Linked DNA regions of Homo sapiens. The protein of the gene in region 2 interacts with the protein of the main gene of each other region in a pairwise test. Each region holds a gene or a part of one and is shown on either strand. Other genes may lie near its edges. The genes, in order: TRIM26, BEND7, TLK1 and FAM133A.

Evidence for each region.
Region 1: the proteins of BEND7 (region 2) and TRIM26 interact in binary tests that used the Homo sapiens proteins (3 or more experiments, as listed by UniProt).
Region 3: the proteins of BEND7 (region 2) and TLK1 interact in binary tests that used the Homo sapiens proteins (3 or more experiments, as listed by UniProt).
Region 4: the proteins of BEND7 (region 2) and FAM133A interact in binary tests that used the Homo sapiens proteins (3 or more experiments, as listed by UniProt).

The regions. Positions count from the first base shown.
Region 1 is NC_000006.12:30,189,230-30,196,661, forward strand, and holds part of TRIM26 (tripartite motif-containing protein 26), read right to left. Parts: coding exon 7,287-7,432; intron 807-7,286; coding exon 784-806; intron 305-783; coding exon 189-304; intron 1-188.
Region 2 is NC_000010.11:13,525,912-13,533,874, forward strand, and holds the start of BEND7 (BEN domain-containing protein 7), read right to left. Parts: upstream 3,104-7,963; 5' UTR 2,623-3,103; coding exon 2,562-2,622; intron 2,272-2,561; exon of another isoform or gene 1,914-2,271; intron 1,893-1,913; exon of another isoform or gene 1,521-1,892; intron 311-1,520; coding exon 227-310; intron 1-226.
Region 3 is NC_000002.12:171,003,723-171,011,154, forward strand, and holds part of TLK1 (serine/threonine-protein kinase tousled-like 1), read right to left. Parts: intron 3,342-7,432; coding exon 3,250-3,341; intron 3,168-3,249; coding exon 3,078-3,167; intron 2,922-3,077; coding exon 2,752-2,921; intron 2,561-2,751; coding exon 2,425-2,560; intron 1-2,424. UniProt on the Homo sapiens protein: Rapidly and transiently inhibited by phosphorylation following the generation of DNA double-stranded breaks during S-phase. This is cell cycle checkpoint and ATM-pathway dependent and appears to regulate processes involved in chromatin assembly.
Region 4 is NC_000023.11:93,705,044-93,712,475, forward strand, and holds the end of FAM133A (protein FAM133A), read left to right. Parts: intron 1-402; exon of another isoform or gene 403-3,231; intron 3,232-4,273; 5' UTR 4,274-4,376; coding exon 4,377-5,123; 3' UTR 5,124-7,222; downstream 7,223-7,432.

The DNA.
Region 1 (7,432 bases), on a different chromosome or scaffold from region 2:
AGTCCCGAAAATTTATGAGCCCATTTCTTGCTCGGGCAGTATCAATTTCCTGATAGGGATCCATGTCTAAGACAAGAGGCCCTCAGAAGAGTGAGGATCGACAAGGTGATGGAAAGGAGCTGGGTGCGCTCTTTCTACGAGGTAGCCCTGCTCTGACTCCCACCCTTTGTGCGCTCCCCAACCCTTACCCTGGAATTCCCTCAGGCCTCGTTGCAGAGAGAGGAGTTTATCTGAGAATTCTCCGGTCTTTTTTTTAACCACTCGAGCAATGGGTTTCCCAACCCAGAACTTCTTCCGTGGATACCTAAGAAGATGACATACATAACAAGCTGTTACTCAGCTCTTCTTACTTTCCTTCATACTTATCTCTCAATCCTCATGGCAATTATGAAGGGGAGAGGAAAGGTATGATTATCCCCAAACAAGTGACAGAAAAACAGTGGCCCAAAGACACCAGCTGAACCAGGGCTTCAGAACATCAGTAGACTCCACATCCAGGGCGCTCTGTCTACTAAGCCATGTTTCTAACCTCTCTGCTCTGTCCCACCTCAAATAAGGCCAGTGGGCCAAGGAGCTGGGGCTACACAGAGAACCATAAGGAGGAGAGCAAGTCTCCAGTTCTCAATGATGTGTCCTGCTCCTCAGAAGGGCATCAGGATGAACCATGGGATGTGAGTACCTCTGGCACCATACCACTCCCCATGAATTCAAATGCACCTGGTCAGAAGCGGGGGAACATAAACAAGGGGGATGAGGTACGCCATGGAGAGGAGACTCTTTTACCTGTTTAGGAAGTCTCTCGTGTCCTAGAAGGGAAAGAAAAAAGCACAAGTATCAATATGAATCAAATAAGACTTCAATGCATCTGCACCCAACACTGTAGCAGAGATGGGACATATCAGTGAACAAAACAAATGTGGTCCCTTTTTTATGGAGCTGACATTCCAGTGGGGTCACTGCATAAAACAACAAGAAAACAAACAAAATCGGCACAATGACAGAAGCCACAATGGCTGGGAGATGACATGGGCAACCTCTCTGGGAGATACCTGCGCAGAGAATTGACGGATAAGAAGTACTGGCCGGATGAAGAGAGGTAAGGTAAAACAGGAAAGGGCTTGGTGAGAACGGCAGAGGCCAGACTGCGCAGGGCTGGATATGCATGGTAAGGAGTTTCACTTTTGCTCCACGTACAGTGGAAACCCACCAAGGGTTTCAAGTAGGGGCATGATATGTGTGATCCGCTCTACATGTGGCTGAGACTGCTGTGTAACCTCCAGAGTCCACTCTCCCCTTCCTCCTTTTAATAATAGAACCCCCGGAGTTATTGCTGGTCAGGCGGCCACCTGGGAAGACTACATTTTCCAGATCCCCTACGACAAGGTCTGGTCATGAGACTAAGTTCCAGCCAATGGAATGTGATAGAAAGCAATGACCATAATTCTGGGCATTGTCCTTTAAAAAAAGAAAATTGCTTTCTACTTCCTTTTTACCCCAACTGAATTTTGGACATGGTGGTGGTGAGCCCAACTTTGACCACGCAGCAGAGGACAACATCCCTAGAAGCTGGTGGAAGAACCACATGGAAGTAACCCAGTCCCTTGGATAAGCTTATGTACAGCTACTGTGATAGCTCTAGACCCTGCACCTCTGAACTGTTAACTGAGGCAGAAATAAACTTCTATTCTGTTTGCGTCACTGTACAGCAGTGAGCCAAAACCCTAAGTGACCACTCACTTGGCTGCCCCACAGAGAAGGGACTAAGGAGGCAAGAGGAACATGGGGAGGTTGGTCCGGAGGCTTTTGCCGTGGACCAGGGGAGAGCTAAAGATGGCCTGAACTAAGGTGGTGGCAGTAGGGAGAAAAAGAGAGAAGCAATACATTCCAGGTATTTTAGAGACAGATTCAACTGGACATACTGGTCAAGGATAAACAAGAACAGAGCATGGTTTGTACAGGGGGGAGAATGGTGGTGCTATCTCTGTGACAGACAGGTGGTAGGGCAGGGTGAGTGGGAAGAGGGCTATTCTGACATGCTCAGATTCCCTTTTGTGAGTCAAAAGCCTCCTTAATACCCTGTATTAATTGATTTTTGCCTTCCTTTCACTCATTCCACAAATATTTATTAAGTGCTTCCTAGGTACCAGGCACTCATCTAGAAGCCTCAGAACAGTTAAAAAAAAAAAAAAAAAAAGAGAGAGAGAGACAAATCCCTACTTCTGTAGAGCTGACATTCTAGCAGGGGGAAGCAGACAATAATCAATGTAGCAAATACATCATACTACGTGAGTGATACGCACCACGGGAAAAGAGAGCAGAGTGAAGGGGGATGGGAGCAGGGGCCGGTGGGGTGCAGGCTGGCTTCCTGGAGAGGGTGAGATTTGGGAAACAAATGGAATTAACAAATTGTGGCTGCTGATGACTGCTTCCAAAAGTTTGGGAAGAGTTGTGAGCTTTACTCCAGAGGAATAAGACAAGAAGTCAGAGGCACATCCCAACCCCCCGCTATGAAGCAAGTGCCCAGAGACTGGTAGCACATTTCTGGCCAAGTCCTCTAACATGCCCCTCAAAACATGTAAGTCCAAGGCGGCTTCAGAGGACAGGCAACAAAACAGACAGTGTGTCCTGACAGCTCTGCTGACAAAGGTGGCATAAAAGAGCAAATGAATGGAGCAGTAGCTGGAGTGTGGGCCAGAGGCCCATTTGGGCATATTTCCTGACATGGAAGTTCCTAGAACAGTAGAAAGGGAGAGAATCATACAGGAGAAAGAAGAGTCCTCTAAAGGTTAAAGGTTGTGAGCAGCCCAGAGAGGGTGGGTCCCGAGAGCCAGGGCAGGGCTGGCCCTGAGGAGAAGAGGCTGAAAGACTCAGGAGCCCCCATCCACAGCCACATACAGGGCCTCTGGAGGGAAGTGATCCGCCCAAGTCTCCTGGAGGACTCTTCTCACCCAAGACATCTGAAGCTGTCATGAAACAGGCAGAGCCGAGCAGTGGGGCTGCGGCAATGAGTCATGGCAAGCTCCCGGAGGGGATGTGCCCGGTTACTAAGAGAGAGCATCAAGAAAGTTCTTCACGGGGGTGTACAGCAGGAGAAGCAGGGTACAAGCATGCCACCTGATCCTGCAGGGCCTGCCCGGGTTACCAGGGCAGGATGCAGTGTCTCTCTGGGCCTCTCCTGTCACCCCAATCCCTTTAATGTCTTCTTGATGCTCCCAGCCCATAGGTTTGTCTTTCCTTTCCTATCACCTCTATCAAAAGGTCTCTTCTATTTTACACATTTTGTCCTGCTGCTTCTCCCTCTCACCTGTATTTCTATTTTATTTTAATTTTTTTGAGACAGGATCTCACTATGTTGCCCAGGCTGGTCTCAAACTCCTGGGTTCAAGCAATCTGCCTGCCTCAGCCTCCCAAAGTGCTGGAATTATAGGTGTGAATCACCACACCAGCCTCACCTGTATTTCTCTATCAGACTTCTGGACCCTATTTTAGGTCTTTTTCTTACTATACTTTGACAGCCAAATAATCTCTGGGAAAATATTAATGCTAATTAGGGAGGTAGCTGTCCAGTTCCCACGCAGTACAATCAAACTCAAATAAGCACACAGACAAAATCTACCAATACCATTTTTCTGCGTATGGTTGGTTACCCAGTTTTCCTAGCACCATTTATTAAAGAGACTGTCCCTTCCCCATTGTATGTTCTTGGTTCCTTTGTTGAAAATCAGTTGGCTGTAAATATGTGAATTTATTTCTGAGTTCTCTACTCTGTTCCATTGGTCTATGTGTCTGCTTTTATATCAATACATGCTGTTTTGGTTACTACAGCTTTGTAGTATATATATATATATGTATATATACATATATATGTATCTATATACATATATATGTGTATATATATATACATATATGTGTGTGTGTGTGTGTGTGTGTGTGTATATATATATATATATATATTTTTTTTTTTTTTTTTTTAATGGAGTCTCACTCTATTGCCCAGGCTGGAATGCAGTGGCACAATCTCGGCTCACTGCAACCTCTGCCTCCTGGATTCAAGTGATTCTCCTGCCTCAGCCTCCCGAGTAGCTGGGATTATAGGTGCGCACCATCACGCCCAGCTAATTTTTGTATTTTTAGTAGAGATGGGGTTTCACCATGTTGGTCAGGCTGGTCTCAAACTCCTGACCTCGTGATCCGCCTGTCTCGGCCTCACAAAGTGCTGGGATTACAGGTGTGAGCCACCACAACTGGCTGTAGTATATTTTGAAGTAAGATAGTGTGAGGCCTCCAGTTTTGTTCTTTTTGCTTAGGATTGCTTTGGCCATTTGGGGTTTTTTGTGACTCCATATGAATTTTAGTTTTTTTTCTATTTTTCTGAAGAATGTCATTCGTATTTTGATAACAGGGATTGTATTAAATCTGTAGACTGCTTTGGGTAGGACAGTCATTTTAACAATATTAATTCTAATCCACAAGCATGGAATATTTTTCCATTTGTTTGTGTCCTCTTCAATTTCTTTCATCAGTGTTTTGTAGTTTTCATTAAAGAGGTCTTTCACCTCCTTGGTTAACTTCATTCCCAGGTATTTTATTTTACTTTTGTAGCTATTGTAAATGGGGTTGCTTTCTTGATGTCTTTTTTAGCTAGTTTGTTATTGGTGTATTAAAAATGCAGTAGACTTTTTATGTTGATTTTGTATCCTGCAACTTTACTGAATTTGTTTATTAGTTCTAAGGGTTTTTTGGTGGGGCCTTTAGGTTTTTCTACATATAAGTATAGCCGTTACGGAAAACAGTATGAGAGTTTCTCAAAAAACTAAAAATAGAACTACCATATGATCCAGCAATCTCATTACTAGGTATTTATCCAAAGAAAAGAAAATCAGTATATCAAAGGGATACCTGCACACTCATGTTTATTGTGGCACTATTCACAATAGTTGAGATGTGGACTCAATCTAAGCATCCATCAACAGATAGATAAAGAAAATGTAGCATATATACACAATGGAGTACTATTCATCCATAATAAATTTGAGTTCATGGAAGTAAGACAGTAGAATAGTAATGATTAGAGGTTGGGAAGGGGGCTGGGGAGAGGAGGGTGGGGAGAAGTTGGTTAACAGATACAAAGTTATAGCTACATGGGAAGAATAAATTCTAGTGTTGTGCAGCATTGCAGGGAGAATATAATTAACTATAATTTACTATACATTTTCAAAAAGCTAGAAGAGAGGATTTTGAATGTTCCAACACAAAGAAATGATAAGTGTTTGAGGTGACAGATATACTAATTACTCTGAGTTGATTATTATATATTATATACTTGTATCAAAGTATCACTCTAGGCCAGGCACAGTGGCTCACGCCTGTAATCCCAGCACTGTGGGAGGCTGAGGCAGGCGATCACCTGAGGTCAGGAGTTCAAGACCAGCCTGGCCAACATGGTGAAACCCTGACTCTACCAAAAATACAGAAAATAGCCAGGTGTGGTGATGTGCGCCTGTAATCCCAGCTATTTGGGAGGCTGAGGCAGGAGAATCGCTTGAACCCAGGAGACAGAGGTTGCAGAGGCAGGAGAATTGCTTCAACCCAGGAGGCGGAGATTACAGTGAGCTGAGATCACGCCACTGCACTCCAGCCTGGGAGACAGAGCGAGACTCTGTCTCAAAAATAAACAAACAAAAACCTCTACATCCCATAAATATATACATTATATAGCACTAAAATTAAAAGAGAAAACACAAAACAAAAAAAGAAACCTACCAGTACCAATAACATTTCCTATACTAGTTTCAAGCTGACACCATTTTCTCTCCCTTCCCTTGACCTTATCCCACCCCAGGGAGAGCTGCAATCTGAGTGCTCTGAGTCATTGAGGGCCAGGCTTCTGCTCTGAGGGCCACTTCTCTGGGTGCATTAGGAAAAGGCACCCCTCCGGGCAAACACAATGGATTTCAGCCCCACCACATCCTCAGCTGTGTGCCTCTGTTCCACACAGTAGGCATTCACACATGGCAGGGGCGTGAGGAGAGGAAGGAGAAGAGAAACGGGCAAAAGGAGATGCAGAAAATGACCCAGTCAAAGAGTATGACGAGAGAAATCTGAGAGAACAGAATGACATCTGGAGGAAAAGAGGGGGCCAGAGAGACATTCTGGACAAAATAAGAACAAGAGCTCAGAGCCCAGGAGTCAGGACATCTGGGCTCAAGCTGTGACCTGACACCCACCCCATGGCCTGGGACAAACTCCTCCCACTCTCTGGACCTCAGTGACTTCATCAGTAGGGGCTGAACTGGAAGGTCTAAAATCCCTGCCAGTCCTCATTCTGTACATCTGAATTCACAACAATGAGGAGCAGGTGGCCGCCTCCTTCTGCAGTCTGTCCCAGTGCACATACTGCAGAGTCTGCCTTGCTATCTCTCCCTCCTAGCTATTGCCCTGCCATTAGCCTGGGACTCCACCTTCCTAGAGATCCTGGGTGGCTCTGCTGCTGACAGACAGACCCAGCCACCCTAAACAGTGCAAGTGGGGGAATACCATCAGAGAGCCCCTCCCCTCCCAGCCTATGAGAGCAGGAAGGTTGAGCCCTCTACCCCTCCAAAGGGGACTGGGCCCTCTTCAGGGTAAGTGTGATCCCCAGAGGCTCCCGGGGGGGAGGAGATGTGGTGCCATTTCAGCTTCACAGCCAGTTCTTCAGCCCCAAACCCTCCCTTTCTCACTATCAAAGCCCCCTCCTCTAGGAGGTGCCCCGAGGCCCCCTTGTCTGCTTTCCATCTTGTTCTCTGTGTGGTAATCCCATGGGCCAAAGAAAACCTGGCCATCTCTGTCTCCCTTCCCCAGTTACCCTATCTCTTCCAGATCCTCTGGGTCTTTGAGAGGAGCTGCTGGTCAGCCCTCCCTCAGCCACCCCCAACCACAACACCATAAAAAGCTTCCACCAGCTGCTAAGTGTCTGCCAATGACTTGTTAAGAGGGCTTGTGATGGCAGTGATGAGGATGGAGGATGGTAAATGATATTAATAATCTTCCCTTCCATTTTCTACTATACCATTTAGTTTTTTGAACAGTTTTGTGTAAAAAGTTTATTTTTTGAAGTGACAGCATGCCAGTTATTTCATTTTATGCTCATGCAATCTACAGACTAATTGGCAGCAGTAAGGATTATCATCTCCATGTTTCAGATGACAAAACTGAGCCCCCAAGTCTTCTAAGGTCCTGCAAGTGAATGGCAGGGCTGGGACCCACCGTCCTGGTCCCTGGCGCCCTGCCCAGGGACGGCCTCTCACCTGCATGAGCTCTGCAGCTGGCTGCTGCGCCTTGCCCTCCAGTTCGGAGATGACCAGGGCCAGCCGGGCAAGCTCCCCGACGCCCCGGCTCTTGAACTTCTCCCTGCCCTCCGTGAGCTCCTGCTCCAGCTTCGCCAGCTGTTCCA
Region 2 (7,963 bases):
ATTAGCACTGTGTGTAGACACTAATAAACATTTATGTCTGAAATTACAACTTTTAGCAATGTTAATAAGGGATATATTGGCAATCTGTAAAATAAAAGGTCTTGAAAAGAATGTCATACATTAAGCAATGGCAGACATTTCCCGTTCCTGAACAATTTCCTTTTTTCCCCCTAATTGCAAATGGTCACGATGTTTTGCTGAGGTATTAATTGACATAGGAACCTACCTAAAAAAATGGGCTGTGTCTCTTTGGCCTCCCCATTAACATCGTTGCTGAATTCTGGGATCTTATACACCTCGTGGTGATAATCTGGCATGAGAAAACAACCAAAAATTAGAATCCTAAGGACCTCAAGATAGGAATAAGCAGTCAAGTCTAGAATCTCATTCTATTTAGTTTGTATACTCTATAATTTATAAATAAACTTTTTGAGAACTGAAATAATCACAGAATTTGTAGTCAATAATAATTCCTAAAACTTTGCTTATTCTGGAGTACGCAAACTTGAAAGATTACTTTGGCTTTAGAAGACAGCTTTGCTTGATCACACCATGTTCACGGTAAATTGTACCCACAGATGCCAATTTTTAGGCTTTTTTTCTTTGAGGTGGCAAGTATGTTTGCCCAATCATAGAGCAGGGGAGGTTTCCAAATTTCTCTTCACAACCCATTTTCACCAGCATATCAACAGTATGCTTTAAAGTTTAGCCAGCACTCTAGTTTTCTCAGTTTACCCAGAAAATCTCAGCCTTTAAGCAGCTTAAAGGCAAGCACACATGAAAAATACTGATTTGTTATTTCAAATGTAGTATGATTTGGATAAGAAAGCAAGATTTTCATCTTTCACACAAGTGACTCTTTCGCATTCAGCTACTGCACTTTATTTAATATGCAAGTTTATTTTCTAAAACTGCACCTGCAGAGAAAGAGAAGAATCAGACCTATAATTAAAAGAAAAAGAAAAAAGGAAAAAGGAAAAACTTGCTACGTCAGTCAAAGTTTCAAATACAGTATTTTACAAGCTTCTCTATGGAGGCTACTGCATTTTTGCTTCTATTTTTGAAAAGCAGGGTCACTAAGGCATGAAAATAGAGGTTCCTCCTTAACACCTAGTCCCCTTTCTCTGGCCTTAGACCTCACAGGACAAAGTCAACAAAACTACTCTCACTTTTAAGATAAAGCAGTTAAGTTCTCTGAGGTCATCAATAAGAAAGCAGCTTACATTCCTGAATGAATCAGATAGCACCAACAGGGCAATCACCCAGACAGAGACTTTTAAAAGTCCAAGTAACTGAGTAATCAACACGGATGTGGAAAAAAAAATTTACTCAGAAAGTGGGAAGAGCCAAGTATTTTGAATGCGTGAAACTATTTCAGGCCTCTTTCATTAAACAGTATCCAAACTAAATTAGGGGAGGCAGATAAGAATGGATCTTCAAAATGCCTATAATCAAAGCATTTTCAGATGAACCAAATCCACATCTTAGCTAGCTTAGCTCAGTTTGAAAAATTCGATTACTTGCAATTGTCCACGATTTTTTCACTAATTTTCATCAGTTTACACGTGACTTCTGCAGGTTGTTGGAGTTTCTACCCTGATGCCAATGCTAGAGAAAACGACAGAGGAAAAGTGGACAGGTTGGGGTTTGGCTTTGACCTCAACTTGATTAAAAGACGACATTTAAACAGAGCGGGTCTAAACTCAATATGAGGACTTGTGACATTACAATGAAAAAAGTCACCTGCCCCTAATTAAAGATGACAATGCATTTTGAGATATATTTTCACGATGGCTCTTGAGTTATCATTTTTTTAAAAAAAAAAGTCAAATCAGGAAGATAAAGACTCTTAACAAGTAACTGAACACAGACAAGACTGTATTCCACTTTCCCCTCCCTGACAAAATACAAACCCTAGAGTGTGGTGTACACCTGTTAATTCGTCAGAAACTAGATGGATTTCTTTTCTTTCTTTTCTTTTTTCTTTTTTTTAAAGGATGCTTATCTGACTGCTATATGATCTAGTCTAAAACACCTTTCCAACCCAAATCAGCTAGCTAGAGATGTTGGATGTCAACAATTCCGCCTTGGGCTTGGACACGGCGTGAGCTTCTTTCTCCTTCTTAAAAAGAACAACAACGGTCATCCTTTTTCCTCCTTCTCTTGGCGGGGGGAAGGGGGAAGACCCCAGAAAACAAAAACAGCAAATCTCAGGTCCGAGGGTCCACGCTCGGCCTGATGGCCAGGCAGGTCCGCGGCCGCCCCAGCCCTGCCCCGGAGGCGCCCCGAGGAGGGCTCGGGCCCCCCGGTGTCATTGTTTGCTAATTTCCTGAGCTGCCCTCCGACTTGTTTACGTTAAATAACATCCCTGCTCCCCCCGCACAACTTTCCCCGCCGCCCGGCGTGTGCGGCCGCGGCCCTGCCTGCCAGCCCGGCGGAGGCACCGGGGGACCGGGAAGGACCGGGGGCTCCGGGAGGGCGCGCCCCCCAGCGTGGACCCCCGCGGGCGGCCGAGGGCGCGGCGCCCGCTGCCTGCCCCCGCCGCCCCGGCGGCCGCTTACCTCGGCTCACCAGTTTGAAGCTCTGGGATTTCCTGCTTCTTTTCCTCTCGGAGAACTCCATGGTGCGGGGAAGGCGGCGGCGGGGGCTGAGGAGGCGGCGGCAGCGGCGGCAGCGGCAGCGGCGGCAGCGGCAGCGGCGGCGCGGGCTCGTGTCACCGCGGCGGAGCCGCCGGGACCAAGGTCCGCGCCTGGAGTCGGCGAGGGGAGGCCGCGGGACGGGAGGAACCACCGCGAGCCGGCTCGGGGCTGCAGGCGCGGGGCCCGGCGGCGTGGGCTCCCGGGCGAAGTTGCCCCCGCGCGGCGCCGCCTCCCGGTGCCCTAGGCGCCCCCGCGGCCCCCGCTCATGCCGGCCCGCGGGTTCCAGACGCCGCCCGCCGCAGCCCAACTTTCCGTTGGGAGCGGGCCGGGCCGGGGCGCGGCGGCGGCGGCGGAGGCGGGGGGCGGCTCGGGGCGGCCGGCCCGCCTGGGCTCAGCCTGCGGTCGCGGCGGCGGCGGCGGCGGCCCCGAAGACGCGGCGGGCGGGCTGCGGGGAGGGCGGCGGCGGGTGCAGAGCCGGCCGGGGCGCTGACCGCCCCCGCGGGAGGAGGGGCGCCGGCGGAGGGGGCGGTGCCGCTGGGACCCCAGGGCCACCTGCTGGCGGAGCCCGGCCGCCGCCATCCCCGGGGGCCGCCGCCGGCCTGGCCGCGCGGCGCCCCGAGGAGGCGCGGAGGCCGCGGCGCAGCGCCCTGGCCCGGGCCCGGCCGGCCTGCCTGCCCCCGGGGACGACGCCGCCGCCCGGGCCTCCGCTCGCAGACCCCGCTCGCTGGCCTCCCTCCGCCGCTTGCTGGGCCGAGCTAACTCCGTGCACCTCGCCGTGGGGGCGCGGACCGCCCCGACAACCACCTCCCCGCCCTCACATCCCGGGCGCCCCGGGGCCCGACGCGCTGATTTTAAGCAAGTTTTAGGGGGAAAAAACTTACCCATTTGCGCTCTCTCTAGAAGGACAGAGAGGAGGTTTTAGAATATTGTGGAGAAGAATATAGTAGAGAGCTCCCATTCCCTAACCCAGGCTGGGCGGATTGTGGAAAGAGCCGAGTCACATTCAAGGAGAGCACTTGGAATGGGGGGCTTGGTGGCCCTGGGGACTCTCAGGAGGCCATGGTCAAGGCAGGTGCAGGGCACTATGCTTCTCCACGTCATATGTCGGAATCATGGACCCAAACACAAAGCGCTTAGTAGTTATGTGTAATATTCTTTTCGGGGGATCAGAGAGCGCACTTCAGGCACCATTTCTTTCTCACATCTTTCGAGTGGGCCAGGAAAAGAATTTCACACTACCTGGGAATGGTAGGACAGGAACATGACGGGACATGCGTGAAAGTATCTGCCAAACCCAACCAGGAAGAGGGTAAAGAGTCGGGGGATGGGGGGGCTACCTCTCCGGCACGGGACAAAGGCCAGTGGCCCCAAAAGAGTAGAGAGGAAAAAGGGGAGGTTGACAAATGTGATGAGTGTCACGTGGGTCTCACCCAAATGAGGCAGCCGCTGAGGAACCGCTCTTATTTCAGGGACACAGAGTAGGACAACTGCCGAGGAAGGGGGACATTGAGGCAGCTTGCAGAAACACACATGGAGAAACAGAACCAAAGAGCAGGGTAACCAGCAAACCAGGCAGTGGAGGCAGGGATGGGTACCCATCCCGAGATCTTGGGTGATACCAAAGGCGGCACATCCGGAAGGCTGGTTATACCTAGCGTGGAGGGGAGAGGGAGAACTGTTTCTTCCGTTCAATAAAGCAAACCCTTCAACAAGAGGTTCTTAACCTTTTTTAGTCACTGTTTCCTTTGAGATTGTGTTCAAAGCTCAAGGGCCCTTTTTCCCAGAAAATATGTATGGGACATATAAAATTTAGTATAGATTTATTGGAGTTCTTAGACGCGCTTTGCTGCTCTCAGAAAATTAGTGGTAACAGTGATTAAAGCAACTACCCTATTTGGGTTTCTTCCTTCCCTGCCACCCCTTTCTTTAAAATCAGGCATTAAAATCTGAAGATGTTTTGGATTTTTTTTTATTTTTTATTTTTTGAGACAGAGTCTCATTCTGTCGCCCAGGATGGAGTGCAGTGGTGCGATCTCAGCTTACTGCAACCTCCACCTCCCGGGTTCAAGCGATTTTCCTGCCTCAGCCTCCCAAGTAGCTAGGATTACAGGCATGGGCCACCACGCCCAGCTAATTTTTTGTATTTTAGTAGAGATGGGGTTTCGCCATGTTGGCCAGGCTGGTTTCAAACTCCTGACCTCAAGTGATCAGCCCGCCTAGGCCTCCCAAAGTGCTGGGATTACAGGCGTGAACCACCACGTCCGGCTGTTTTGGATGTTTTTAAAGAAACAAAGCATGCAATTTTGTTCCCCAGGCTGGGATCCATTCTTTCTTTATGTAATGCCTTTTAAAATGTTATTCTCAAAGCCGTAAGGCTAAGTTCTACACTGACTGAGGAACTTCCCGGATCGTTCATGCTTTGGAGCATATAATGAGATTTTATTATGCTTAAACTATGACGAACCCAGTGAAGGTGTCATCCCAAGAAGTAAATCCCTGGAGAAGGTATTAACAACTTAGCATTTTCAGTTCAAGTGGGAATGCAAATTCCATTTACTGAAGAGAATATTTTTGATATAGTTAAGAATAAAATATTTGAGTAAGAATATTTTTAAATAGTAGTCATTTCTCCTTGACCCTTTTTAACCTGGCTTTCCAAAGTTGGTCTATGAGTGAGTTGGCCTGCAGAGGACACAGGCTACGCTTGTCTTATTAGCTTTTAGAGAAAATAAATGTCTGTTTACTCTGCATTTTGTGCAAATCACTATGCTCTTATCTAACAAAAATGTATATATCACATTTAGTATTAAAATTAATAATAATGTTTAATTAAAATGAGGTTGCTTGGGGCCAGGTGTAGTGGCTCACACCTGTAATCCCAACATTTTGGGATACAGAAGGATTGCTTAAGGCCAGAAATTCAAGACCAACCTGGATAACATCCTGAGACCCGGTCTCTACCAAAAAATTAAAATATAAAATAAAACATAAAGTGAGATTGCTTTAAGTAGCAGGTATCCATATAGTAGCTGATCCTTATCCTTGGGGAGTATGTCCAAGACCTTCAGTGGATGTCTGAACCTGAGGATAGTACCGAACCCCGTATATACTATGTTACCATCAAACCCCATATATACCGTGTTTTTTATTGTTTTATGTTTTCTAATAACCAAGCCAACAAGTGACTAACGAGCAGATAGTGCAGACAATGTGAATACGCTAGGCTAAAGAATGATTCCTATTCTGGGCCGGAAGGAGCAGGTTGGCTAAAGATTTCATCATGCCACTCAAAATGGGGCACAATTTTAAATTGATGCATTGTTTATTTCTGGAAGTTTCCATTCAATATTTGCAGGCCATAGGTGACTGCAGGTAACTGAAATCATGGATAAAGGGGGACTACTGTATTAGCCTGTTCGGGCTATCTTAACAAATACCACATACTGGGTGACTTAACAGCAGCTTATTTTCTTACCATTCTAAAGGCTGCAAGTTTCAGATCTAGGTCTGGCAGGGTCAGTTTCTGGCGAGGGCCCTTTTCTTAGCTTGCACACCACTACACTTACATGGCATAGGAAGAGAGCTGTCTTTCTCTCCCTCTTCTTGTAAGGCCACCAATCTTATCAAATTAGGGCTCCGCCTTTATGATCTCTTTTAACCTTAATTACCTTCTATTAAAGGTTCAATCTCCAGATACAGTCACGTTAGGAGTCAGGGATTCAACATATGAGTTTGTGGGGGACACAAATCAGTCTGTAGCCATCTTGTTTTCACTCAAATATAATGTCTGTATTGAGGGGTCCTGGAAAGTTTTCTAGGGGATCTACTGAAGTCATTTCTTTACCCCATTCTTTCCAATTTTAGTATATGTGCTGCCGAAGCTAGCACTCTTTGCCTCATTCTTAAAGGCCCCCTAAAGTTCCAGAACCACAGGTTTATGTGTTACTGGAGATCAGAGATAATTGGTCAAATATTCAATGACATCACGCAGGGCAAACATTTTATTATATGGCCATGCTTAAACCCACTTGATTATAAAGATTACATGTTGGTTTCAATCTTTGACAAAGCCAGATAATTTGGCCAGAAAACCTGAAGTAACCTTACCGCTAATACTTGAAATGCTCTTCCTGAAAACTGTCCTGAGAGGAATAGCATTATGAAAAGTTTCATCTTTATTTAGAGCTCTGCTGTCGAATAGAAATACAATGCAAGCTATGTATGTAATTTAAAATGTCCTATTAGCCACACTGAAAAAAGTAAAAATAAACAGATGAAATTCATTTTAATAATTTATCTTATTTAACTGAATACATTAAAATATTATCATTTTGACACATAATATGAGAATATTATTATTGAGATAGTTTATATGCTTTTTGTTATACAAAGTTTTGAAATTGGTATGCATCTTACCCTTAGATTACAAATCAATTCAAACTAGCCAAATTTCAAATTGTCCATAGTCACATGTAGTTACAGGTGACCATACTGGGCAGCTCAGATTTAGAAGGAATGTATGATTTGAACCATGCTATGTACGTAGATGTAGTATGTCTACAACTTGATTACTGTTTAACTGTTTTATTAATACACCTCAGAAAGAAGATGAGCAGAATGGAATTATTGGGCTTCAGGCTTTTTATAATCTTTGATTGGATTTTCTGGAATTGAATATCCTGTCATTAAATAGATTCTGGGAATCCTTCAGGAAGATTTAATATGTATAAATATCCACTTTTCAACATTAGGACAATCACCCATCAGACGGTCATGGAAGGAATAGATGCCCTCCTTTTAGCTGCCGTTTCCCAAGTGTTGCTGGCCTAATGCAGTTTCTACACCCGTTTACTTCATTGGTTTTGGTGATTGTAATTTAAGAGAAAGGAGGCAGTATTTATAAGATATTTCATAAGTGAAAATGAGAGTTGGAATGTTCCACAAATAATATTACCTTATATTTTATATGGGGCTTCTTTTACAGCTCAAGCATAGGTATGCATTATCTAACTCTTAATAGTTCTATGAGATTGGTATATATTAATATTCCAATTTTGCAAATGAGAAAAATCCATTCTGAAGACCATTTTTTAGTGAAATTAGAATGGTCTGCTGTTTCCTGACTCTTAAATATGATGCATGAACCTTATTTTTTTTTACTTGGTTCTTTAAAATACTTTTTTTTTGTTCTTTTTAAGATCTACCTTATATATGATAAGGAACACAAACCTTCAGTGGATATCTCAATTAATTTGTTTTACTTATATATACATCCATGTATCCCCCACCCTGATGAAGATTTAGAACTTTTCCAGCACACCAGT
Region 3 (7,432 bases), on a different chromosome or scaffold from region 2:
CAGTATGTGGTACAGTTAATTTTATGAAGTTATTATTTAATTCGGCATCTTTACATTTGTTTACGTTTCTCTCAACTGCAAATAGCACCAGGTACAGTCTGTGTTTGTATACGTTTTGATAAATTTTAACTTCTTGTAATAGATTTGTGTACATTTTATGGCAGTAAATGGTAAAACAGACAAGTATCTACATATATTTCACGCCTTCGTGACATACCTTTTTCTTAATTTTTTCAGTATTTTTTTTTTCGAGACGGAGTCTTGCTCTGTCGCCCAGGCAGGAGTGCAGTGGTATGATCTCAGCTCACTGCAACCTCTGCCTCCTGGATTCAAACAATTCCCCTGCCTCAGCCTCCCAAGTAGCTGGGATTCCAGGCATGGCCACCATGCCCAGCTAACTTTTGTACTTTTAGTATTTTTAGCAGAGACGAGGTTTCACCACGTTGGCCAGGCTGGTCTCGAACTCCTGACCTCAAGTGATCCGCCCGCCTCAGCCTCTCAGAATGCTTGGATTACAGGCGTGAGCCACCGTGTCCAGCCAATTTTTTCAATATTTCTAGGCTACATGGTTCGTCAGTGAGATTTTTCAAATTGTTGCAAATCTCCAAAAAATTTTCCAATGTATTTATCGGAAAAAAAAAAGCCACATAAAAGTGGACCCATGCATTTCAAACCTATATTATTCAAGGTCAGCTGTACATAGCTAAACAACTAATATGACTGTAGACATAAACCAATTTTTGGACCACAGATTTCCATGAGAAATACATTCCATGTTCCTATAGAACAATGCCATTATTGTATCTCCTTCCAGTACAGCCCCTGAAACATAAGCTCTTTGTCCCTCGAACATCTGTAAAAGGGAAATTTCCTTGTCCTTCCCTATACTAGTGAAGCCAGAGTGAGAGAGAAACAAATAATGAGAATGTCCTGCAGACGAAGAATAATTTATTGTTTAGAACATGGTTTTCAAGCTATCTTCCATGGAATCTAAGATTCTACCAAGATGCTTTGTTTTTGTTGGTTTTATTAGAATAAGATTTTGTTGTTAAAAAAAAAAATGAGCCTTGTTGCTAAAAGAAAAAAGTCCAAAGACTTTGAGAATATTGACTTTCAGGGGGTTACCAGTTTGAATAGTTTTCTTAAAATATGAAGAAAAAATTCATGACATTATTATCTTATCCATGTTCCTAGGAAATGCCACAAGCCAAATTTAAAATTTGAAAGTGGCTTTAAAAGAATACATGAATATGACTAATCCCTGCTCATTAAAAGTGAAATCTATACAGACAGTGGCATCGTGTGTAAGTGGTTATGATGTGCTCAGTTTGTGTGAATACTGTTCTGGAAAACCTGAAGTCACATTTATGTTTGTAGTCACAATCCTGTTTCAATGAAGTTGAACGCAGTTATCTTTCTTCCATTAAAATGTCACTCTTTATGCTAAACTAATTTTCTCTGAGAACTAAGTTTGTTTTGAAATTTTATAGTTTATGTTCTCCACTTTGGTGAATTTAACAAGTTTGAAAATTCACACTGAAGTAGTTTTTGTGAACACGTAGGTATACTGAGGGGATGACAGTCATTTAGATTTATATCTATGAATCTGTGATTATATCTAAATTTAAATCTAGACATATCAAGTCTTTAAAAGGGATTTCTGAAAGTCAAGTCCAAAGAATATGCCAAATTTATCTCCCATTCACAGCCAACAAAACATCCATCTTCCACAAAAACCACCAGCCAGGTGCAGTGGCTCACGCCTGTAATCCAAGCACTTTGGGAGAGGCAGATCACTTGATACCAGGAGTTCAAGACCAGCCTGGGCAACAAATTAAGACCTGGTCTCTACAAAAAGTTTAGATTAGCTGGGCATAGTGGTGCGTACCTGTGGTCTCAGTTACTCAAGAGTAAGTGGGCAGATCGCTTGAGCCTAGGAGTTTGAGGCTGCAATGAACTAAGATTACACCACTGCACAGGGCAAGACCCTGTCTCAAAATAAAATGAAAATTCCTGCAACCATATAACCTCCACAGAGAGGGCTTGATGCTTGCAGTTTTTGCTTGCAATAGTTAAAATATTATATTAACATAAGTATTTATATTTATGATGAACATCACGCTAACATTGTAGAAGAAAACCCATGAATGAATTCTTCCTGTTAGGAGTTTCTGACTGGCAGGTACTGAAGTCACTTGTTAATGCCAGGTCATTCTCTCTCCAGTATGCTGTTATTTGCAGTTAAGAACAGATGAGAAAAGAGGAATGACCACAGAAGTCTCCCTCTCAACTGAGAGCTTAATATCAGTACCTTTACCACAGTAATCTTAATGGCTACATGGAAATAAAAAAAAAAACACTAAATTATTATAAAAGCACTGGGCACCAATCTAGACATTCTGATGTTTTTAGTAATACACTTACCAGTAAGTGCCTGCCCCCTGGGAAGTTAGATCCATTCCATCTACACCATAGCTATCATCATCCATAATCTTGGACAGACCAAAATCAGTGATTTTGATTTCACCACATGCTGTTCCATCTACCAGTAGGATGTTTCCTAAGAATAAAATATAAGATTCTTTTAATGATACATACATGAAAAACATAACTTTAATAACTTTTAATTTTACTAGTATTTTACTGATGTCTTACAAGAGAAACCAAAAAACATGTTTTCAGATAACTTAATGAATGACTTTTAAAAACTATACTCAAGTTTAAAAAAAATTAGACAAATTTCATAATTACCTGGCTTAAGATCATAATGTATAATAGGGGGTTTGATCTCATTGAGATATCTTAGTGCATTTACAATCTGCATTACAATAGACCGAGCTTCTTTCTCTGACATTAACTTGTGTTGCTTCAGATAGAAATCCAAGTCATTGCCTTCACAGTATTCTAACACTGTACAAAACCTACAACAGAGAAGAGAAAAAAATTAGACATAAGTAATATCCAAGAATTCAGAATCACAATGGGGAAATGGAGAGTATTTATATCATCAACACAGGATGGGGAAAGAGAAAGCAAGCATATCTTTCCTTAAAAATTGAACCTTAATATTCACTTACGTATCTGTATCCAAGGAGAAATAATCATAGAGTTTAACTATTCTGGGGTGATCCAGTTCTTTGTGTATTCTATACTCTCTGCAGGCATGTCTATGAGAAGACAGTGTATTAATTCTCCATGATCATTCAAAAAATATTCAATTTTAAAAAACCATAAAGTATTAGTATTTACTTGTGGTAGTTTTCTTTCTTCTCATCTCTCCAGCTTTTATTAAGCTGATGTATCTTCACAGCAGCATATCTTTGTTCATAAAGGTCAAAAGCCTAGGATTTCAAGTCAAAAACAATTAAGATGAAAGACCAATTGAATAGCTGAAGAGATGTTTTTTATTTTGGTGATAATTTTTGCAATAATATGGAATTAGGACAAACCCTACAATTATTAATGATCTTCTCTGCTAAGACTATATATAGCTCAATGACACTTTTATTATCAGAAGACAGAAATTCCATGGTAATAAATCAGAGAAAACCTTAATGTGAATTTTCACATTAAATTTTATAAATGCCAATATACTGAATAAAAATAAAACAATAAAGCTATTATTTGTTTTTAATATGGACTTATTCCTCTATACTAGTAGTAAGCAGCCAGGAAAACAGATGACTGTACCACTTTTTTTGTAGGTTGGATAAAACCTTTTAAATCTATCTTTTCCTAGCAACCCCCTATTTCTTTCTCACTTTTTAGAAAAATTAAAAAGTTCCTAACAGTTATTTTTCCAACTGTTGAAAAAAACTCGTTATTATAAAACTGTTCAAACATATACACAAGTAGACTACTATAATGTGCCCTTATGCCCCTACCATCCAGTTTCAAAAATTACCAATATGTTGCCATTCTTGTTTCATCTATTCCCTAGTACCCTTGCATCCCACCCTTCCCAACCAGAGTATTATTAAAACAAATACATTATTTCTCCCAGTAAACACATCAGTATTTAAATAAAAATAACCACATACCATTATCACACCTAACTACATCAGTAATAATTCCTTCATCTCATCTAATACCTAACCTGTCTTCAATTTTCCCTGGTTGTCTCAAAAAGAATTTATACTTGATTTGTTCAAATCACCAGCCTATTTCTTAAATTAAAAACACAGAATGATCAGTATTTTAACAGCTTTACATGACTTATGTTTTTTTAAAAAGCAATGAATACCATTAAAGAGACATTTAATAATTTTGGTTCCATTGTGATTTACACACAAAGGTGCCCCTTTCACTTAAAAGCTTACGTATTTATTAGAAAGAAGGTCCCCATTTCCTCCCATCAATTTAACCTAAAAATAAGCAGGAAGGGATAAGCAGTAAAGTGACTACTTTGGTACAAAACTATAAAAGTATGAGATCAGATATAATATAGCACACAGTTGTTAAGAATATTCTGTTTGCAATCAGATTAGCTTATTAGCTGAGTGACTCTGTGCTAATACCCTCTCTGAGCCCCAAAAGTTAGGGTTATTGAGAGGATTAAATGGGGGTAAAACATATGAGGTGTTTAGAATAATACATGGTACGGCCAAGAAACATTAGCTAATTACATATTATTATTAAGGGTTAAGTGTAAAGAAACTGAGAAGAATAAAAATAAAGTAAGTTTATATAAGGGACAAGGCGGAACAAATCTATAAAGAATTCAAGGCAATCATAGTAAAGGATAATTGAAGAAAAAACTAAGCAAGCAATAAAAAGTTATTATCAGAGTATACTGATTATAATAAATTATATGTAACACATCTTCCTCCCAAAATTTCAGGTGAGTAGAAGTATACCTTTCCATAAGGTTAATATGGCAATCACTCAGCAACTGACTCAACATCTCCCATCCTGGTATAAAATACAACTCTTTACTTCTTGACTTACAATCTGCTTTTTGTCTAGTTGTTTCCCAACAGAACTGGCAATCATGAAAGGGCTTTAAAGGGCTTAGAGAATGATGTCACTAGTATTTAGGTCAGTATAGAAAGTTCAAGTCACTGGGCCCCAATCTGCACTTTCTAATCTCTATGTAAGCCTCTTCTACAAAAGTCCTCACCTATGAGGGTAAAATAGTTATTTAAAATACAACCAGGCAGTAGCAGAGGGTTGTTATGAAGGCTCATGGTAAGTTCATAAGCTCAACAACTTTTAGGCCACGCTAATGCTAACTGCACTTTTAGTGACTTTTAGATCCCAGCTGAACTATCATGATAATCTTTTCTACCTTATGGTAAGCCTACTTCACCCATTAAGTGCTTAAGGATAAACTATTATTAGAATCAGAGAAACAGGAATTGGAAGAGAGCCCAAAGATCACTTTTGATGAATGAGGAAGGTGAGGACCCTGACGTGTAATGCTTATCTAAGTTAACAAAAAATAGTGCATGGTTGAACTGATACCAGAACTGAAGTTCTCTTAACTCAAATCCCATAATTTTTCCAAGTCAGAAGCAGAAACGAGAAGGGTGTAGTCTTTGTCCCATGCAACAGTCAGGATTTCTTTTCCTTTTTTTTTTTTTTTTTTTTTTTTTTTTGAGAGAAAATGTCTCCCTCTGTCCCCCAGGGTGGAGTGCAGTAGCACAATCTTGGCTCACTGCAACCTCCCACCACCAAGGTTCAAGCGATTATCATGCCTCAGCCTCCGAGTAGCTGGAACTACAGGCATGTGCCATCATGCCTAGCTAATTTTTTTCTTGTATTTTTAGTAGAAACGGGTTCGCCATGTTGCCCAGACTGGTCTTGAACTCCTGAGTTCAGGCAATCTGCCTGCCTTGGCCCCACCAAGTGCTAGGATTACAGGTGTGAGCCATGGCCAACAAGCAGGATTTCTAATAATCTTATCAGCTTATCTCAGCACCTATGTTCTATATGATTTACATGTGATAACTCAGTTAATCACTGCAACAACCCTATAATGTAGGTATTGTTATTATTCTCAGAAGGAGCCAATGAGTCAGACAGGGATTTAAATAAGAAGCCCAAATTAATAAAATTAGTAAATAGCAGTCAGGATTTAAACCTAGCTGTCTGGCTTCAGAACCAAAGCTTTTAACCAACTATGCCAGTACGTAATGAAGCACAAAGGAGCTTATAAAAAGGCACACCAAATCTATCAGAGAAGATGCAGAGGGTCAGGGAAGCTGTTTAGAGGAACTAAAGATGAGCATATAACCCTTCACTAGGACTTCATCCCAAGAGCAAATGGGAAGCTACTGGGGCTTTCAAGTAGGACAGATGATCAGGCTGCCTTTTATAAAAAGTTCACTCTAGTTGCAGTGTACAAAATGACTTGAGAAAAGCAATGCCCAAAAGAAGACAATCAGCTATGAGGTTCCGGAAGAAGCCTTGAGCTAAGAGACAGAAGGGAAGGGTCATGGCTGAATTTAGGAGAACTTAATGACATTAATAATAGCAGGAACTAGGGGCTTATAATATGTGAGGGGAGGGGAACAAAGGGAAAGGAAGAGCATACGATGGTTTTTGTGTTTTTTCACTTGAGGGACCAGGCAGATGAATGGCAATGTTATATACTGAGGTCAGGGAAGTCAGAAGCAGTGTTAAAAGACATTTTAGAGGAGAGGAAGATAACTTCTATTTCAAATGTGAGTTTCCAGTACCTATGAAGCACCCACATGAGGTAAGTCATGTATACAAACATACTTTGAGGTATTGAACTCAGGAAGAAAGTGTGAGCTAGATATTACCTGGGGGTGACACCAAATAGATAACCCAGTGAATGAGAGAGGATAAAAACCTTCTTAAGGGAGAATACAGAATGATAAAAGGGACCTTAGGAATCCAATATTTAAAGGTTAGGCTAAAAGATACAACATAAAGTACAAAAAAAAAAAAAAAGAAAGGCATAAAATAGTGAACATGGGGAGTAAAAATGCTACATTTATACATATGCATTTGAGAAACGGACTTGACATAGGTAGAAATTTGGATAAATTCAGGACATGTTAATACTTCAGACATTTTTTAATTAAGGGGTACAATCTTTCTATAAGTGTACTGTATTAAATGGCTACCTGCCTATCTTGATTTAAATAGCTGTTACTCTTTGTATTGGACTGGTTAATGGTGACTAGGTATCAAATATCACAGGGACTGTGCAGGTGGCAAGGACAGTCTTTGGATTCTGGAAATAAGACAACAGAAGCCACAACAAACCCTTTTTTATAATGAGGACATATAATCAATAAACAAAAGACAAGTACTTCTTTTTTTTGTTTTTGAGACAGGGTCTTGCTCTGTCACCCATACTAGAGTGCAGTGGTGCAATCATAGCTTATTGCAACCATGAATTCCTGGACTCTGCAATACTCCCACCTCAGCCTCCTGAGTAGCTGGGGCTACATGTGTGCGC
Region 4 (7,432 bases), on a different chromosome or scaffold from region 2:
TCATAGCATCCTGTACTTTTCCTTCATCTCCCCAGTCATGATTATGATTATATACTCATTTGTTTCATATTTGTGTAATAACTATTACCTTTACTAAACTGTAATATCCATTGCATAGTATCTTGGCACATAATAGATTATCAAAAGGGAATTGTAAGAATCAATGAACAAATATTATTATAATATCCAGATTACTAGCATGATTGTCACAATTTATATCTAACCTTTACAGGATTTTAGCATATTTCATGAAAATAAGTAGATGTACAGAAAATCAAGTTACTCTTTGTTCTATAATAGAAACAGAGAAGATAAGCCACAGTGCTTTTAAAACAGAGTATTTGAGCAAGAGACTTTGTTGGTGTTACTTTTTCTCTTTTCTCAATTTGATTTATCTTCTAGGAAAGGATCATACAGATTCTTCAGTTCAGAAGAACTCCAGCAACACTTACATGGTGACAACACCCTCTCCCATTCTCTGTTGTTACTCCAAATTTTAATTACTGGTCTCAAAACTCCTGTCTTAATCTTAGCAGACAACCTTGGCACTTACCACTGAATGAAAATGAAGGCTATTATGTGAGAAATACTTCATCTTTCTCCCTTTTACCTCCTACCACCCTACAAAAAATCCTGCATCCATTCCCTGTCTTTATTCTTTGCCTCTGCTCTTGGGGGAAGAAATTCTTTCTATCTCTGAATTTAATTTCATTCCTTTCTGTTTTCTCTGTGATATTGCCACATTAGTTATTTCTTCTCTTACCTAGGTTTTTAAAACATGTTTTCTTTGTACTTTATCCTTCTAGATGCCCTATGAATATGCTCAAGTTTCTTTCATGTAAAAAAAAACACAAAAGAATTTTAACTCTGCATCTTTCATGGTTGCCTTCTTATCTCTTTACTTTCCGTATTGACTGTGACTATGTACTCTAGGTCTCTACATTCTCACCTTCAATTCAGTCTTTTAACCCACTGTCACCTGGCTTGTGCCTTCACCACTTAGCTGAGATTGCATTAGCAAAGGTTACTAATGACTTCTTGATAGCTAAGTATAATGGACATTTTCAGATCTGAACTTGACTGATCTTCTGCATTTAATACTGTTGTCTGTAACAAATCTTTTCTATTTTTATGAATTTTTCAAAGGTAAGGATAATACTTGTTTTTTGTAGAAAATTTAAACATTACAGAGTCATAAGGATTCTTATGCTCACCTTGAAACTTTATTCACCCTGTGTTTCTTGACTCTTTCTTTTCTGATACTGGTCCAGCTCTTACTACTCTGGCTAATTTCTTAATGCATACTTTGTAGGTTTTTCATTCACTGCCAACCCCTTGCATGTTGGTGTTCAGTTGGATCCAGTCTCAAACTTTTTTCCACTTGAAATTTCCCTGCAAAATAATTTAGTTTTCTCTCATGACCCTAGCTATCACTCAGCGACTGCCAGTTCAGTATTTCTAACTCAGATCACTTTCCAAAGTGCCAAATCCCATACATCCTCTTTCTTACATGGATAATTGTCCATAAATCTCATAGGCACTTCAAACTTCAGGAGTCCAAAATGGAAACTAGAACCTTTTCTCGAAGTCTGTGCCATTTTCTCTATTACCTAGTCATTGTCATTGCCTTTGGTCTAATGTGTCGAGCCAGAGCCTTACCCCAGATTTCTTTCTCTTTTTCATCCTTTGTATCCAATTTGTCACTAATTTCAATAGAATCTTCTCAACATGTCTCATATATTTCTCATTCTTTTCATTCACAGTGTTGCTGTTTGAGTTCAGACTCTTTCATTTCTTGTCTACATGAATTTTTAAGTGGTCCCATTGCCTTCTGTCTTAACCTGACTTCAATCCGTCTGTCACTGGGCAAATAATTGTCCTTAAACACTCAAATATGACCATATCATTTTTCTGCTTAAAATAGTGTCTCCCCGTTAGCTTCACTGTAAATCCCACAGGAGAGATTCCAACCACCTTAGCATACCACCCAAAGCCTTTGTTAACTGGCCTTCGCCTATCTTTCTAGCTGATGTCAGGACTAGGTCTCAAGGGACTGAAATTAGAATGGATTATTCTATTGTAAGTGTCAAGTAACAGAAAGAAGCTGCAAGTTGAATATGAACTGAAGTATTTAAGAGTTTTGAATGGTCAAATCAGAGACACAATGATATTTGAGACGTGGTTAGGGTAAGAGTAAGAATGAAAATTACAGAAAGACCTAAAAGGGCTGCCTATAAATAAAGAGGAAGGAGAATAAGATCAAGAACACAGAAAATAAGATGTTGGAAACTATCACCAAGAGTCACTGAAATGTCTATAGCATTGAGCTTATGATGGGTAGGTATGTTAGGTTGACTTAAAGGATCAGATTTAAGATGGAGATTGATAGAAAAATCTATTATATGTCTGATCGTCTTTCTCTTCTATATAAAAGACTTTATTGGCTCTTGTATCAACTATAGGACAAAATTCAAGATTTTCAAATGACCTAAGAGGGCCTCCATATTTAGGCTTCTTTTTATCTCTGCAAACTTACCTCCTTCCCCCTGCCCTCTTGATCTTTAGGTTCCATCAACTCTAAATACCTGCTGCTCTTTTCTCATGTTTCCTCTGCCAAGATTGTCCTTAATTTCCTCATTTTCTGGGTAAATGCCTGTTCATTCCTTAAGACCCTATACAGACATCACCATCTCCAGGACACTCCCTCTGAATCCTCCTTTCTCTCAGAGTTACCCATCCATCCATCCATGCATTTATTTATTTGTTTATTATTGAGAAAATATTTATTGAGTGCTTAATATGGATCAGATTCTATGTCAGGTAATGGGAACACCGTGGTGAATAAGATAGGCCACACATGACCTTTACCCTTCTTGGTCTTACATTTAGCAGTGGATACACATGTATAACGCAATAATCACAAATAAAATAATTACCAATTTCATAAATGCTACAAATAAAATAAACGATGAACTATCATACAGAAAAATGAGGATGAGGGGTAGACAGAGAGGCAAACCACTTTAGTATAAGGTTGAGCCATAAAAAGTTGTTGATCTTTAAACTGTTTGTGTCCCATAAAATAGTTTTACATAGTTTAACCTAATGGTTGACTTTCTGAGGAATTGACATTTAAGCTGAAACCTGAAGGATGAGGTGGAATTGGCCATGCTGGCTAAGCCTATAATTCGGCATGTTCCAGGAACCAAATGAAAAGAATTGAGAAAAAAGGTGAGTGAAACAAAACAAAAGTAAGAGACAGAAGTAGGGCAGATCATATAGGACCTTATAGGAGATTGGATTTGTTTTTCATTAAAATATAAAACCACTGGAGTTTTTTAAGATCCCTCTGTTTACAGTGTGGGACTAGAATAAAAGGGAGTAAGGTTGGAAAAATGCTACCTATTAAGAGGTTGATGTAAGGAGACAATTTGGTGTTGCCTTATTTGTGCAGCTTGGAATCAGGCTGCCTTTGTTTAAATCCTGGATATGCCATTTATTAGCCATGTTACTTCATGTTCAAATTTTGAGTTTTACTCTAATTCTCTAAGCCTCAGTTTATCTATCTGTGAAATAGAGACAATGATAGGATCAACTTCATAGGTCTGGCCTTGAGATTGAATGAGATAATCCATTGCAAACACTAAGCAGTCCTTGACAGAGAATAAACACTTACTAGGTACTAGAGATTAATAGCCCAAGCGAGAGATGATAGTGGCCTGGGCTAAGTTGATGACAGTATATTTGGAGACAAGTGAATGGATATGAGGCCTATTGTGGAGGTTTAAATATCAGGATTTAGTAATGTATTGGATTTGACCGTTGAGGGAGAAGGATTTCTCAGTTATGACTCCTGGGCTTCTGTCAAAAGGAATGGAGAGGGTTGTGTTGCACTTTCTTGAGTTGGCGAAGGTCTGTCTGGTACAGATTTTAGTTTTATAAATTTCTCTCTATATACTATATAAAGCAGGAATGAAAGAAAGGAAAAAGTTAAGTATCATACAATGTAAGAGAAAATGGCTATTAAATATTTTAGGTATCTGTCAGAATCTTACATGAGGTATATAAAACACTTTTAGTTTATATTATGTTTATACCACAGTGTCTATAATATGTAAAATTTTAAAATGTGTATATTGTTTGTTCCCATGGTATAAGATTTTGGAAATTTCTACTGTACTGTGTGATAGGCAGTGTTAACAATTAAGCTTATATGTTTGTTTGTCTTTATATTAAAGGTGATTTGTAATCATTCCATCTGCTTCTCTTACAGAATGGAGCTTGCTTGATATTTCACTAGATAAAGAATTTAAGGCGAGTATCTATCTTTGTTCTCCTTGGCAACTGAGAGTCTGCCCTTGGAAACATCAGGCACCATGGGGAAGCGGGATAATCGGGTAGCCTATATGAATCCTATAGCAATGGCCAGATGGAGAGGCCCAACTCAATCTGTGGGCCCAACAATCCAAGATTATCTAAATCGACCAAGACCCACCTGGGAAGAAGTAAAGAAACAATTAGAAAATAAAAAAACAGGTTCAAAAGCATTAGCTGAATTTGAAGAAAAAATGAATGAAAATTGGAAGAAAGAACTTGAAAAAAGCAGAGAGAAATTATTAAGTGGAAATGAGAGCTCATCTAAAAAAAGAGAAAGAAAGAAAAAGAGAAAGAAGAAATCTTGTCGGTCTTCATCTTCTTCATCAAGCTCTGATTCTTCAAGCAGTTCTTCAGATTCTGAGGATGAGGAAAAGAAACAAGGAAAAAGGAGAAAGAAAAAGAAGAACCGTTCATACAAATCATCCCAAAGCTCTACGCATGAATCAGAATCAGAGAGCAAGGAGTCTGTAAAAAAGAAAAAGAAGTCAAAGGATGAAACAGAGAAAGAAAAGGATGTAAGAAGCCTCAGCAAAAAAAGAAAGAAAAGTTACCCTGATGATAAACCTTTATCATCTGAGTCCTCATCTGAATCAGATTATGAAGAGGATGTGCAAGCAAAAAAGAAGAGAAGGTGTGAAGAGCGAGAACAAGCAAAGGAAAAAGTAAAGAAGAAGAAGAAGAAACAGCACAAGAAACATAGTAAGAAGAAGAAAAAGAAGTCTGGATCAAGTCACAAGTCAAGGTAACATCAAGAAAAAAAGCAAGAATGAGTTTGCCGAGTTCCCCTGTGTTAGTAGAATTATTTCTGGACTTTGAGTTGCCTATCAAATCCCACTGTGCCAGTAAGGGGCATAGTGGCTGCTGGCAACTTCAATATACATTTTTGTTTGTTTGCTTGTCCTTCCTTCTAATGGTTAATTCCTCTGAGAGCTAAAATTCTGTTGTCATACCAGTGAATAAAATGTTTGAAATTAAAGTAAAATGTGTTAGATAATGAATAACTTTGACAAAAAAAAGTGTATCTAAGGTTAAATGTATCTAATTCGAATACATCTTTGAAATATCACCATCAATGAAACATAAATGTAATTTCCAGACAATTGTAGTTGGTATTTTTGATGCAAGGACTTAATATTGATGTCTCAAATTCCTTGCTTTTGTAAATAAGTTTAGTTCATTTTCCTTTTTTCTTTAATGAATCTTTGTTTACATGGGGAAAGAGCATGTGGGGTGGGAAGGGCAAGTGTTTGCTAATCACTGTGGCTAGCTGAATAGTGTGCCTTTGACTCTTACACATCCTATTTTTGCCAGAGCAGCAGCCGTCCTTTTCTTACTTTATGAAATTCTGGGGTGTTGTATGCTGCTTCAAGTGAACAAGAAGGACAGGAGTTTACAGCATAAGTAAGCCCCCATATCTATGAAATTTACCTCTTCTTCAGCACTGTTTACTATACAGTACTGAATAATATTTAGTATTACAATATTACATGATTTGAAATAACTTTATACCCATTTTGTATGGGAACCATTCTAAACAGACCCTGATGTTGTTTGATTAAGAAATATTCTGAAATTTTTTTTGCATGTTTTATACTGTTAAGTTTTAATTATCTGACCATATTCTATATAACTGATGATCCTTTTTTAAGATATGATTTATGCTTAGGATATAAGTTTCAAGTTTTTAGTTTCTTAGCCTTGCTATATTAATTTCATTACTGTGTTTAATTGCACCCTTGCCAAAATATTTAGCATGTGAAAAGGTTTTTTTTAAAAAATATGTAATGCCTTCATATTGAAGCTGGTTACTGTACGCAAGTTGAGTGCCAGACCTCTAGTACGCCGTATGTTACATGAAACTACTGCCAAAATCTTAGTAAGATTGTTGTTGAAAAGATTGTTGTCTTAAGCATTAATATTGAATTTATATAGAAGTTAAATGTAGATGATAATGACATCATTGATCTTCCTGTGTCCGTATTTTCCTACAATTTGGTGCCTTGTATCTGTTGCTGATTCACTTTTACCACTAGTGTAAAAATAAGTGAAAAAATATTTTTACTTTACATTTTTATATATCAGAGTAACATAAATTATAAATTTGTGTCTCAAAACCACCTGTGATGGAGGATGTGCTAATTGTAATGTCATAGGTACAAAGTATTTTGGCATGATGAAAAGCTCAATAGCTATTGTTTTTCAATAGCAGATTTTATCTCGGCTACCTTCAATCACAAGTAAAATTATAAAGATAAAAAACATCTACATAAACATGTTGGCTGCCAAATTTTTTGCATTGGAAATACTGGAATCTCTCATTAAAGTTCTTGGAACATTATAGTGATGCCATGTTAGATTACCTTGGAGCTTCATAACTTTAGCTTTTTCCTAAAAATATATGTTTATGCTGATAAAAACTATTACATTTATGGGATATTTTGTATCCATATAGAGTTTTTCAGAATTGTTCATTAAAATGCTTTTTATAAGCTTATATTATTTGTAGAATATGGCAAAAGCATTTACAGCTCATCATGTATCTATCTGCTCCTGTTCACTTCCAAACCTCTTGTAGTTAGGCAATGCCATTTGACTACTTCAAGCAGAGGGATTGTAAACAGAAGTGATTTTCTATTTCCATGTTGGACTGTAAAAAGTTCTGCATGACCCTCCAGTTTTCTTTTGCCTGTCATGGTGACCTGAAAGCAAGATGTTCCAAATGGCATACTTACAAGACGGATGCAACCTGGGTCCTTAGGTCGCTGTTTAGAAGGGACCTGACTGGAGTGCTGATGGACTTGCAGTAAACTTTTTAAGTGTAAGAAATAAACTGTTATGTGTTAAACCACTGTGATTTGGGGTCTTTTTATTACTGCGGAATCACCTAACCTAATCTGACCAATAACATAGAACTCTAGAACATCTATTTCATTATTTACATAAAATAACTCACCTTCTTCTATCACATTCTTCTGTAGTCTACAGATTGACTCAGAAGTGATCATTATGCCATAGCAGAAGGAAATACTCATTGTATTTGCACTGGTTTTTATGT